3 separate regions of the Homo sapiens genome follow, and regions 2 and 3 are each reported to be linked to region 1. The links are microRNA targets in miRTarBase. Many come from high-throughput screens and were not tested one by one. Region 1 holds a microRNA gene; each other region holds the end of a gene's coding sequence.

Region 1 (4,247 bases):
ACACCAGACCCTTGGGAGGCACCATTCCACAAAACCCACTCAACTAGGGCCTCCAGTGAGGCCCTATTCTGAGCCAGTCAATTTGCCTTGAATCATTTTGTCCCTTATGATCTGGAGTTGCTCGCCTATATTCTCTTTTTGCAACTATAGAAGGCAGTCTAGATCAAGGATCTCAACCTAGTCTGCATGTGAGAATCACCGGCTGGAATTAGGGGTGAGAATGCGTAAAGGGCTTTACAAAAATTACTGATGCCTACCCAAAGCAATTAAATCATAATCTCCATAAAGTAACACTCAGGCACTAATATTTTTTAAAGCTTCTCAGTGATTCCAATTCGCAGTCAAGTTTAAGTATCACTGGTCTAGGTAATGCCAGATGGACAGTGGCATTGTTGCAAGCCAAGACTAGTAGAAGCTGGGAAAAAAAAACTGCCCATGGCCGGGTTTTCTTTGGCCCACATTTAATTAAGAGAATTCACATGAAGTCTGGATTTCACAGGCTCCTCTCAGAGCCCATCTACTCCAGGGTACTCTATTTCTAAAATATTTACTTGGCTCTTGTTGACATTTCAGTTTGAGACTCCTGGATTACTTGAGACCCCTGAATTACTATGGTAATAAGGTTGTTGTGGTATTGATAGAGCTGCTACATATCAATGTGTGACTGATATACAAACTTTAACTGGCTCCTACCCTGAAAATAGTCCTAAATAAGCATATCTGTGGCCCTAAATGATAGCCTGAAAACTGCTTTTCGCACATAACTCATATTATTTTTTCCCATCCTAAATGCTACCGCCTAGAGAAAGGTCAACAATAGTTGCCTTAAAAATTGGACTCAACTCCACACAAAAGCAAAAACTAAAAACCTAAAAGTTGTCTGTTTACTCCCCTGGTAGGCACTATTTGATTGATATCCAACTGAGTATTTCTGAGTTGGCTATTTGATCTTGGGTAACTACAGAAGCAAAATCCCTAAAATAAACCAGATATAACCAACTTTATCCCCAAAGATATATGAAAAATCTGAGGGGCCCACTTATCTTCCTGTTTCTGAAGGAGCCAAAATTTTCTCATAAAACTCACTGCTTATCATCTTTTTAAAGCCTCAAAGGCTGAGATCCAATGGATATGGGATGTTCTGTGCATCCTGTAACAATTTCCTGCAGACTATCCAAAATTCTTTACAATGGAAATTCATTTGAATAACTAAACCAACAACTGCAAATTACTTGGGTACTATTAAGCAAATCATACTAAACCACTTATTCTCAACTACTGTGTTGCAAACTGCAACAAATGAAAGATCAGAGATAGTATAGAGCAACCTCTAACAGTAGCAGTGATAGGCATTTATAATAGTCTTTAATGTGGTTTAAAAGTACAATATAGTTAAGAACTACCTTCCCTGGTACAGAATACTAGGTCATTCTGTGACCAGAATAACAAAATATGATACAAAGAGGTAGCATGATGTTAAGTTTCAGGTAGAAGGAAATGAAAAATTGAGGGAGTTATTTAACCTCAGTGAGCCTTATCTTCCTCCTTTATAAAAAATGGCAATTTCTTCTCCACTTGTTTTAGACAGTAAGTTGAAGTGCTTTGAAGAGGAAAAGTGATAAACTCCCATAATTACAGATCCAAATAAGAGTAAATTAAATTGTCCTAAAACCTGGACTTGGCCAGAGTATCAATGACAAACGATCTTCAACTTTGGGACCTTCTTTAAGAAAACTCTCCCTTCATCCCTATATAACAGTATCAGCTTTAAGAGTGAGCTAAAATGAAAGTAATGTAAAGGAGTTTTGAGGTTAGCTAAGAATGACTTTTAAAGTATTTTCTTTAAAAAAAGTGGCATTCAAAGAGCTATTGAACATTTTTGTATCACTGTTACAACACAAACAATTTAAATTCAATATCTGAGATGCAGAAATTGGAAATCTTTCAGAAAATGCTCTGAAAGCTTCATTAACCAAGTTAAATGTTGGGGGAATGGGCTCATTCACAGTTCCCTGCAAAGAAACAACCAATTTTTGACATTTTATATTAAGTGGGAACAGTGAATAAGGCACATAATACGGGTGGCTATTAGCCACCTTTAGTCATTTTTTAACTATAAAAATAAACATAAGTAACTAATGGAATAACAAAATAAAAGTTTATTTTATTAGAATTAGGAATGTTCTTTCCCTCTGGGCAACCTGAACAGTCCAGTTACAATGAAATCTAAGAACAGTTATTTCCACAGCATAGGGTGCTCTATGCACAAAATTACAGGGTTAGGAGCATTTAATCAATTTACCATTCTGATTGTCTCACCAACCCACCCCATCCCATCCCCCAAGTGCTCTATTACCGGGGTTTGTAGCTAAAATAATTTGTTACATTAACTCCTTTTCCCTCTTCTACTAAATTTCAGTTCCTAATCATGGTTGAACCACTTTATTACACAGCAGATTCAACCATTTCAAATGAAGTCAGCCAGTCTTGGATCTGTTGTATATGGGTGTATGTATACACGTGTATCTAACATATTTATTTAAACACACATAAAACACATACAATCTGGGTTGTGGAAAATTACAGATAATTTAGTCTGATATTATATGCTACTCAATTTTACCACTGTGGTTTGTGTCCTGAGCTTTGGATCAAAATTTTATTTTAAATCACTGAAAGTCCATCTGCTGCTGAATGAATTGTTCAAATGAAGCATGCACTTTTCAAAAGACAATGAAACTGACCTCAAGACATGGAGACCTTGGTGCTTACTGTGAATAGATCCCTCAGATAAGACTTCTGTAGGTGAAACAGGGAAGCTGTCATGGCTTGCCTATCCCAGCTGGGGGCACTGAATCTACTAATAACACAAGCAATTCACTCTGGGAATTCTGTCAAATATGGTGGTATCTGTTAAAAGCTTGGAAGTAGAAAAGGGCCAGTTCATCTTGATCATACAAATTAGGGAATGCACCCACAACTGCAATACCCTCAGGCAGTATGCCAACATTGAAATAGAAAGCATCTCTAAAAAGCACTGTTCCTCCATGGGTGAAGACTGGTATTAGGAAGTGCACACACAATTTTTGGGTATTTGTTGCAACAGGAACACGTGGATTTATGACACTCAAACCTAGACACTGCAAAGTTAACTGGTAAGATTTTTTTTTTTTAAACACCACACATACACAAAGCATTTTAAAGGAGCCACATATATCTATATAGCAACTCTGACTGCTTTTCAAAGTTACCAGGGAAAGGAACTTATTCAGGCTTTCTTTAAAAAAACTCCTTAGTTTTAATGTATATCTTTTTAAGATTGATGCTGTCATTTGAAGTAAAATAATGTCATATGGATAATGGGGGAAGAGGGGAGAGAGACGAGAAAATGGAAGAAGCAGACACTGAGTTCAGATTTGCACCTGAGGTGGCAAGGGAGGAAAGGAGAAAAGGTACAGGTAAAGTTGATCCTAAAGCGACAAGTGGTTTAAGGAAGCAGCATTTATACTCAGCAAACATTCACTGATTTTTGATGGGAAAAGAACAGTTGCCAGTAAATCTCCTGTAACAACCTTTTCTAAAAGGAAAAGTAGGGTTGATTCAGCAAAGCCTAACTTAGGCAAAAGGCCAGAGGAAAGTGAACCTACTTCCCAATGGAGTAATAGGATGTACAGTGTAAGAGCAGACAAAGCTGCCTCACAAATGGTAAACACTCCCTAGGCAAAAGACATTTAAAGGAAGACGAAGAGGTCCTCAGCCTCAACTGGTATTTCATATTTAGACCTCTTAATCTAGTTGCCTAGTTCACTCTGCACTCCTGTATAAAACTGACAGATTTACAGATGCTGACCTATTGAAAAATACCACAGCCAGAATGGCCTAAACAGGTATATAGTTAATACAACCACCACCATCCTTTACTTTTAACATAGCTCTTAGTAGGAATTTCATAAAAATGGACATCACAGCTAAAATGCATTATTAATTCTCCTATCTGCTGACAATAAAAAAGCAGCAAACTCAGTGATTTCTATTTAAATGCACTAGATGGGAATATCATGTTCTAGGGGTGTTTGCCTTCAAACCAAACCCACAGCAACACACACAAGCAATTTCGGTATCCACCATTTTAAATTCACAATCTGAGACTAAATGAATGGCTATTTATATTTAAAGCAAAACATTCTCTTTGACACCCTAATGTAGAGAAGGGGTGAGCAGACGAGCCATAACTAAAATCTGAAAAG
Region 2 (4,247 bases), not on the chromosome of region 1:
TGAAGATGGATTTTTGAAGTTTTGGTCCTTACCCAGGCAGCCCTGTAGGCCTGGGGCAGCCCCTGAGTTACCAGAGCCTGGAGAGAGCTCGGTGGGGCCAAGTGGGAACAGCAAATGAGAAAAGTGGACTGGGGAACGCGATAGGGAGGGGTGGGGACTGTGGTGGGTTGCAGAGTTCATGCTCCCTTCGACATCATTAATATAAATAAAAAATTAAAACACTTCCTTAGCATGTGTATGTGTGTATGTGTATTGCAAAATTTCCAAAAAACAAAACAAAATAAAAAAAAAAAACACAGGAAGGATATGCCAGAAACTAATGAAACTGGCTCCCTCCAGCAGGTGAGTAGGAATGGAGTGTGGGGGATAGAAGGACTCTTCTGAGCACAGCTTGCATAGAGTGGACCTTTTGGAACTATGTTAATGTTCTACATATTGAAAACAATAAAGTAACAAAGAAGAATGTAGACAGAAATGACTGAGCCTACCTGTATTTCAGACGAATAAAATAACCACACTGAAGAGAAAGAACCAATCCAAGTAACATCTGAACGTGTATTCAAACTGTTACTTTGACCATGGACCCTCAATCTAACGACAAAAAAAAAAAATACTGAGTAAGATCAGATACATCTTGAGCTCTATTTAGAATGTTTGTTTTTCACAGGGTATGGGTATGGCAATTCTGAAACTCCTTTTTGTGCAGGATTGAGCAAATAAGTAGATATATTGATGTTGATAGAAACCCAGGTTCTTACTGTTTAAGAATCGAGGAAATAGGGAATTGGGGAAGAATGGAAGAACTCTGTGGTGTTTGACTGGAACTGGAGAAATAGATATAGAGAGATGTGTTTGCTATTTATTCACACATACATATTCTGTCTCCCCCCTTTTTTTTCCTTTTTTATTTTTTTAGAGACAGGGTCTCAGTCTGTCATCCAGGCTGGAATGTAGTGTTGCAATCATAACTCACTGCAGCCTTGAACTCTTGGGCTCAAGAGATCCTCCGGCTTTGACCTCCCAAAGTGCTGGGATTACAGGTGAGAGCTCCTGCGCCCAGCCACATAGACACATTCCTTAGCTCTCTTTGCTGGAAGGACTTAAAAGCAATGACACCTCAGTACCAAGGAGCACATCTATTGCCCAGATCTTGGATTCTAAACATTTCCTGCTCCAGGAAACCAGGGCTCCTTGGAGAAATGGCTGATTCCCGGTTCGTACGAGATGAACCTGGAACATCTTGTGATGCCAGAGAGAAAGGATGTGCTCAAAAAATGATCGGGACACGGAAGGGACCTTCTGCTGGCCAAATCTGGGACAATTTGAGGATCAAAATAATTGAGGACAGTAATGGATTATAACTCACTGAATAAAATAAAAATCCATGAGTCTACACTGATAATAAAGACAGAAACTAATACAGATAAAAGAAATGATGGAGTTAGATAACTACCATTTGCAACTATCTTAGCAAAAATTGATTCAGGTAGTTGATTTCAGTTAAGTTATCATCGATGGATAAAGCTAGTGGGTGAAAGGTGATGAGGAAAGGGACATTTACACCCAACAATATTTCCCCACAGATTATTGATTAATTACAAAGGGGAGAAATGGTAGCTTCACCGTGGAGAAACATGGCGGACATCACCTTAATGGATGATTAAAATTAATTAACATCACCAAGAATGGGCCATGCCCCTACAGATGGAATTCCCTAGGGCATATCATTTATGTCACATTCCTGCCCATGCAATACCTAAATCTAATCACGACAAAGCATCAGAGAAACCTAAACTGATAGACATTCTATAAAACAACTGGCCTGTATTCTTCAAGAGTGTCAAGAATGTCAAAGTTATAAAATAAAAAAAAGGCTGAGGAGTGTTTTCAGATTAAAGGAGACTAAAGAGACACAACAACTAAATGCAATGTGCAACCCTAGCCTGGATGTTGGCCTCCTCCAGCAATGGCACCCTTTGTCTGTGGATAGGATGACCTGCCTGGTGATCACTGGCATTCCTGCCTGAACAGCCTCCTTTCATGATTGCAGAGCTGTGCCCCTCTGACATATGCTCAGCTTGTTTGTAACATTTAGATTAAGACACAAAGGAGGCTGGGTGCAGTGGCTCACACCTGTAATCCCAGCACTTTGGGAGGCAGAGGAAGGAGGATCACCTGAGCCCTGGAGTTTGAGACCAAACTGGGCAACATGGCAAAACTCTGTCTCTACAAAAAACACAAAAATTAGCCAAGTGTGGTGTCATGTACCTGTAGTCCCAGCTACTCTGGAGGCTGAGGTGGGAGGATCACCTGAGCCTGGGAAGGCTGAGGCTGCAGTGAGCAGTGGTTGTACCACTCCCCTCTAGCCTGGGTGACAGGGTGAGACCCTGCCTCAAAAAAAAAAAAAAAAAAAAAGACACAAAGGGATGTTTGGTGCCAAGACATGAAGAATGCTTGATTCACCTGGCAATGTCTGGGATAAAGGACAGAATCACCAGGTGGGTCCCCAGATGACAAATAGTTCTGAGTAGACAGTGGGGGTCCCCCTTGAAGGCTCAATTAGAGGAAGCAGGTTGTTGCAGTGATGGACCAGGAGGGGCAAGGAGTATGTGCATGATCCACATCAACCCATGTGAGCGCTCGCTCCCTGGAGTGTGGCTGGAGGCCCAGGCCCAGCACAGTTGTGGCACAGACAGGCAGAGGCTGGGGCAAGAGAATACCATGTTTAGTAAAGCTGCTTGCACATGCCTGCAGTTTAGCCTACCTTGGTGACCACATGGCTCCAACATGCAGTCCAGGCCAGGATGGACGGCCTGGGTGGATGTGGGATCCAAGCCACTCTCAGCTGTGCCCCTTGAGTAAGCTGCTGCATCTGTGTCCCTGTAATACGCCCGTACCACACCCATCACTTTAGGAGGCAAGACTCTGGGGCCACAGACACATCAAGGCTAACAGGGATTGGAGGGAAGGGGGATCGATGTCTGGGACACAGGGGAGCCTGGCAAGAAGGGGTGATATGGATCCAGAAACCCCACTACTGGGTATACATCAAAGGGAAATGAAATCAGTATGTTCAAGAGACGTCTGCTTTCCCAGTTCACTGCAGCACTGTTCACAATAGCCAAGATATGGAAGCAGCTTGGTGTCCACTGATAGATGAACGGATAGAGGAAATGTGGTGCATATACATAACAGAGTACCATTCAGCCTTAAAAAAGGAGGAAATCTTGTCATTTATGAAAACATGGGTGAACCCGGTGCACATTATGCTGAGTGAAATAAGCCAGGCACAGAAAGACAAACACTGCATGATCTCACTTACATGTGGAACCTATAAAAGCTGCCCTTATACAAGTAAAGAGTCAAATGCTGGTTACCATGGGCTGGGAGGAGAGGGACTGGGCAGATGTGTCAAAGAATACAAAATTTCAGTTAGGAGGCATAAGTTCAGGGATCTTGTACAGCATGGTGACTATAGTTAACAACAACGTATTGTATTCTTGAAAAAAAGGAGTGATATAGGGGTACCAGAGATGGGCAGGATGATTGAAGATCACAGTCCAGCCTTGCAGGACCCCGGGGGACAGGGCGGGCACTCAGAGGTGGACCTCCAGCAGGTAGCGCAGGCGACACTGGCTCTCCTGGTAGATGAGGTACTCGCTCTGGGAGAATGTGGAGCTGCTGAACTCTGGGCAGGGCACAGGCTGGCCCTGGGGCACCACCACTTGCTGGCCATCCAGCTCCAACTCAGTGTCCTGGGTCGGATCTGCAGGGCACAGCAAGGGCCAGGGTGGCCCAGGGGTCACTGGTCCCAGGCCTTACGAGTAAGTCCTGCCCCCTATGCTCTCCATGTCTGTCACAGGGCACGCCTGCTCATTTCCACCTTGCCCACCTCCAAACCACTGCAGGGGCTGGGGCTTCTGCCTGGGGTGTCCTCCCCGACTTCTCTCTGGGAAACTTGTACTAATCCTTCAATGCTCAGTCAACAACTCCTCTTTTTGAAGCCCTCCGGGATGCCCAGGAATGATGTGTTGAACCAGTGGATGTTTGTCAAATGACAAACTGAGTGACGACAGGGAAGCTTCTTTTTGTCCCTCTTCACAGCCCCCTCCCTGAAAATGTCCCAGCCCCTATCTCGGCCCCACCTCTCTCCTTGGGCTGTACAGCTTCTGAGGACTCACCAGGCTCGGTGTGGCCTCGGGCAATGACACTGTCGAAGCCAGGAGGTGGGCTCTTCAAGCTGGGGT
Region 3 (4,247 bases), not on the chromosome of region 1:
TGTCTTTAATTCCAAAAACCTGGCCGTTCAGGCACAAAAGAAGATCTTGGGTAAAATGGTGTCCAAATCCATCGCCACCACCTTAATAGACGACACAAGTAGTGAGGTGCTGGATGAGCTCTACAGAGTGACCAGGGAGTACACCCAAAACAAGAAGGAGGCAGAGAAGATCATCAAGAACCTCATCAAGACAGTCATCAAGCTGGCCATTCTTTATAGGAATAATCAGTTTAATCAAGATGAGCTAGCATTGATGGAGAAATTTAAGAAGAAAGTTCATCAGCTTGCTATGACCGTGGTCAGTTTCCATCAGGTGGATTATACCTTTGACCGGAATGTGTTATCCAGGCTGTTAAATGAATGCAGAGAGATGCTGCACCAAATCATTCAGCGCCACCTCACTGCCAAGTCACATGGACGGGTTAATAATGTGTTTGATCATTTTTCAGATTGTGAATTTTTGGCTGCCTTGTATAATCCTTTTGGGAATTTTAAACCCCACTTACAAAAACTATGTGATGGTATCAACAAAATGTTGGATGAAGAGAACATATGAGCACATGAGTTAAGATTGTGACTGATCATGATTTATTTGAAGATGGAGCACTGCTGATTTATGAAGGAAAAAAGAAGAATTTTCTAAAGATTACACATATTTCAGAAAGACTTTACCCAATTCAGTTGTCAGACATAATGATTTATTTGAAGGCTTGTTTTATTTGAAGAAAAGCATATTGCCAAAAATTCTGGTTAAAAGCTTCCTAACGGGTAACAGACCATGGGAGAGATATGTGGTTGGGTAATGCAAATGTAGTTATACAAAGAAAAATACAGATGTCTCCAGACCTGAGGACTTTTTAATAGGGCAGTTGTTGTGTTGGTGGCACATTGGATATTTCTAACATGTACAAAGCTATGTATTTTGATTTACTTTCATTTCTTGCTATGTATATGTACTTTTCTTAAAATGCCAAGAACTTTCTCTTGCTATCATTGCTCCTTTTGAAACAATTCAATTTTCATGTCTACAGCTGACTGTTTTGTTAAGATTGAGTCATCGACATTCAGGATTTAAGTCTGAGGTAGTCAACCCTCAGGAAAAAAAAAATGGCTTATCTGAAATCAGTACTGTGGAAATGAACTATATTAGCTATTATGAATAATGTCCAGTATAAGAATATGCTTCTGGAATTGAGTTCTCCTTTTAAGTACCAATGATACTTAAATTTCTCAGAAATGTAATGGTGTGTCATTGCCTTGAAATGCTTGCTTAGGGCTTCTTTTATGTTATCTTAAAAAGTGCTGGTGAATTTTCCATTTTTTACATCCATTTCACATGTAAGAGACAAAAAAGTCTAGATTGGTCTTGATATTGAGATAATAAAAAGTAAGTAGCATTAAGAAAGGTAACAATCTTCATTCTACAGATGAACTCATTGAAACAATTTAGGGGAATGAGGGGCAAAAGGGGAGAAATACTGCTAAAGAACATGAGCATAAAAATGCGTGCGTTTCAGTGTTTAAGAAGGCTTGATAAAGAATGTCACTTTTTTATTTAACTGATAAGATTTTTGTTATTTTTTACTTTGATAAGTAAACCAAAGAATATTTGTATTTCAAGCAGTTTGTGTGGTGTTTCTATATAATTTTCTGTGTATAAATAATAAAGTAGGCATTTGTTTATTTTGTAAAAAAGAAATGAAAATCTGCTGGCCAGCTATGTCCTCTAGGAAATGACAGACCCAACCACCAGCAATAAACATTTCCATTGTCACTGTGTCTATGATTTTTTTTTTTTTTTTTTTGAGTCTCGCTCTGTTGTTTAGGCTAGAATGCAGTGGCATGATTTTGGCTCACTGCAACCTCTGCCTCCCAGGTTCAAGTGATTCTCCTGCCTCTGCCTCCCAAGTAGCTGGGATTACAGGCATGCACCACCACACCCAGCTAATTTTTGTATTTTTAGTCGAGATGGGGTTTCACCATGTTGCCCAGGCTGGTCTTGAACTCCTGACTTCAAATGATCTGCCTGCCTCGGCCTCCGAAAGTGTTGGGATTACAGGTGTGAGCCACTGTGCCTATGATTTAGTGTACTCTCTTGCCTTAAATTTGCCTGCCTCCCAGAATATTGACATTAAAATAATAGTTTACCAGGAAAGGTTCCACAACTAAAAATTCCAGAAGTTGAGATCTGCTCTAACCCATTTCAGCCTAGAGAGGGTGGTCAGTTTCTCTGACACCCTCATTTGCTTGGCTAAGACAAGCAGCAAAGGTGTAGAGTTTCTTCCTGTTTGATATTAAATCCTGACACTAAGATTTGAACTGAAAGTATCATTCTCACTTCCTAGAGCCAGTAGGTGATCAGTATATGCTGTAACAATAACACAGTGACTACAGAAATGACCCTTCTAGCTTCATAACTTGCTAAGTGGCTTATAAATGGAATTCAGCAGCCTTCCTTGACCAGCTGTTTTCCTCACATGTGAAGGCTGAGAATGTGATGGGGGGTGTGAGCTACTGACTGGATGTGTTCTGTTCTCCAGATCTCAAACAGCAGAGGTATGGGAAACGAAAGCCCTGGGCAGTCCATGGATGCTTCTTGCTCATCTGTAGCTATAGACAGGACCAACCAGAGAGAGAAAACGTACGGAGGGAGAAATCTGGATCTCTCTGGACACACTGGATCATAGGGTTGTGCCAGCAGGCTAGCAATCAAATGTGCATGGGATTGGGGGAGCAATGCTTCATCTCCCACAGAGGGAAGGCAGTGAGGAGTAGACCGAAGGAGGGAATCCTGTTTGCTACCATTTCTCAGCATTTTCTGGAGGGGACCCATCTCCTTACCAGTGCTGTGCCTGAAAAGCATGTCTTGGATCAGGTCCAAAGTCGTGATTAGCAAGTTCATTTCTAATACAATAGGACTCCCCTTGAGCATTTAGGGTGGCAAGGAGCGTGGGAGCTGGGAAGAATCCCCACGTGCTTAGGGTAGATAAATCTGAGCCGAGTTAATACTAATTTGGGGATCCTATGAACCTTTTTATAAAATAGTATCTGTTCACGTTTTGAAAAAAATTGTGTTGTAATTGATTTTATTTTGTGCTGGTGGCTTCTCTGCAAAAATTATGAGTGGATATGATAAGTGGATGATAATACTAATGGACAACTAACGCAGAGTAGTTTGTATTATGTGTCGGGCACATTAACTCATTTAATTCTGCCACAATCTTCACCATCTTATAGATAAGGAAACTAGGGGAATAGAAGTTAAGGAATTTCCTGAGGTCACATGTGCTCGAGGTGTCCCAGCCGGAATATGTATAAAATCTTATTTTCACTTAAAGATGATATGGCTAAAGGCAGTGCTAGGAACATCTTTGGCTCAGAGAAGCGTGGGCAGTATGCTGCTGAAATGGTTCCTCATATAGTGACATTTTAGGCAGTACCTAAGTCAGCACAGGTCTGGCCTGTTCTCTAAAGATCTGTGTAGATGTTGTACAAAGACATTTTTCAAAGTTTTCAACATGACTCCTACTTTGGGGGCATCTTGTGGCTCAGTTTTCTGTCTCGTGGAACTTCACTTCTAGGTGCTCACAATGACTTTTAACGTTGACTTCTGAGGTGCAGTGAGCTGCTCCCCCACAGCTGTCCCTAGCAGTGGTGGGTTCAGAGCATGACAAGGCACTCAATGTGCATTCACCAAGAGAAGCAAGGAAGCAGCAGTTCAGTACTGTGCTCCCTAGAGTAGGCACGGCATCAGTTTCAAACTTCAACATTATTTTCCAGATTTGGAGGCTCAAAATATTTGAGCAAGTTAAGTTAAGAAATAGCCTTTTTCTGATTATTAGGCCTTTCATATACAACTCAAAATTAGTTTAAGAGTAAAGCATGGGGTGGGTGCGGTGGCTTATGCTTGTAAGCCCAGAACTTTGGGAGGCGGAGGTGGGAGGATCACTTGAGGTGAGGAGTTCGAGACCAGCCTGGCCAACGTGGTGAAACCCCACTGCTACTAAAAATACACAAGATTAGCCAGATGTGGTGGCAGGCACCTGTAATCCCAGCTACTTGGGAGGCTAAGGCAGGAGAATCGCTGGAACCTGGGAGGCAGAGGTTGCAGTGAGCTGAGATTGTACCACTGCACTGCAGCCTGGGCAACAAGAACGAAACCCCGTCTCAAAAAAAAAAAAAAAAAAAAAAAGCATGAGTTAAGAACTTTGATCGTACAGAAATATTGCGTTTTAAACTCTTATATA

The links. Region 1 holds the annotated microRNA hsa-miR-630 (AGUAUUCUGUACCAGGGAAGGU, at 1,402-1,423, opposite strand). A microRNA usually pairs through its seed, bases 2 to 8, with sites in the 3' UTR of a target mRNA and lowers its output. Matches are read on the target gene's strand: a 7mer-m8 pairs with bases 2 to 8, a 7mer-A1 pairs with bases 2 to 7 and ends in A, and an 8mer does both.
Region 2: the mRNA of PARP3 is a reported target of hsa-miR-630. Seed matches in the 3' UTR shown: 8mer at 3,494-3,501.
Region 3: miRTarBase lists TNFAIP8 as a target of hsa-miR-630. The part of its 3' UTR that is shown has no 7-base or 8-base seed match.

Annotation. Positions count from the first base shown.
Region 1 is chr15:72,584,453-72,588,699 of GRCh38, reverse strand. It overlaps MIR630 (microRNA 630), which reads right to left and starts at 1,483; the gene lies at 1,387-1,483. It overlaps ARIH1 (ariadne RBR E3 ubiquitin protein ligase 1), which reads right to left. Exons shown (of 14, transcript NM_005744.5): 14 at 1-4,247.
Region 2 is chr3:51,947,830-51,952,076 of GRCh38, reverse strand. It overlaps PARP3 (poly(ADP-ribose) polymerase family member 3), which reads right to left. Exons shown (of 11, transcript NM_001003931.4): 10 at 4,182-4,247; 11 at 3,210-3,766. The coding sequence ends at 3,597. Among named protein-coding and RNA genes, the nearest start is that of GPR62, 5.4 kb to the left of the region's middle.
Region 3 is chr5:119,392,826-119,397,072 of GRCh38, forward strand. It overlaps TNFAIP8 (TNF alpha induced protein 8), which reads left to right. Exons shown (of 2, transcript NM_014350.4): 2 at 1-4,247. The coding sequence ends at 556. Among named protein-coding and RNA genes, the nearest start is that of TNFAIP8, 39 kb to the left of the region's middle. RefSeq lists an enhancer at 2,212-2,261.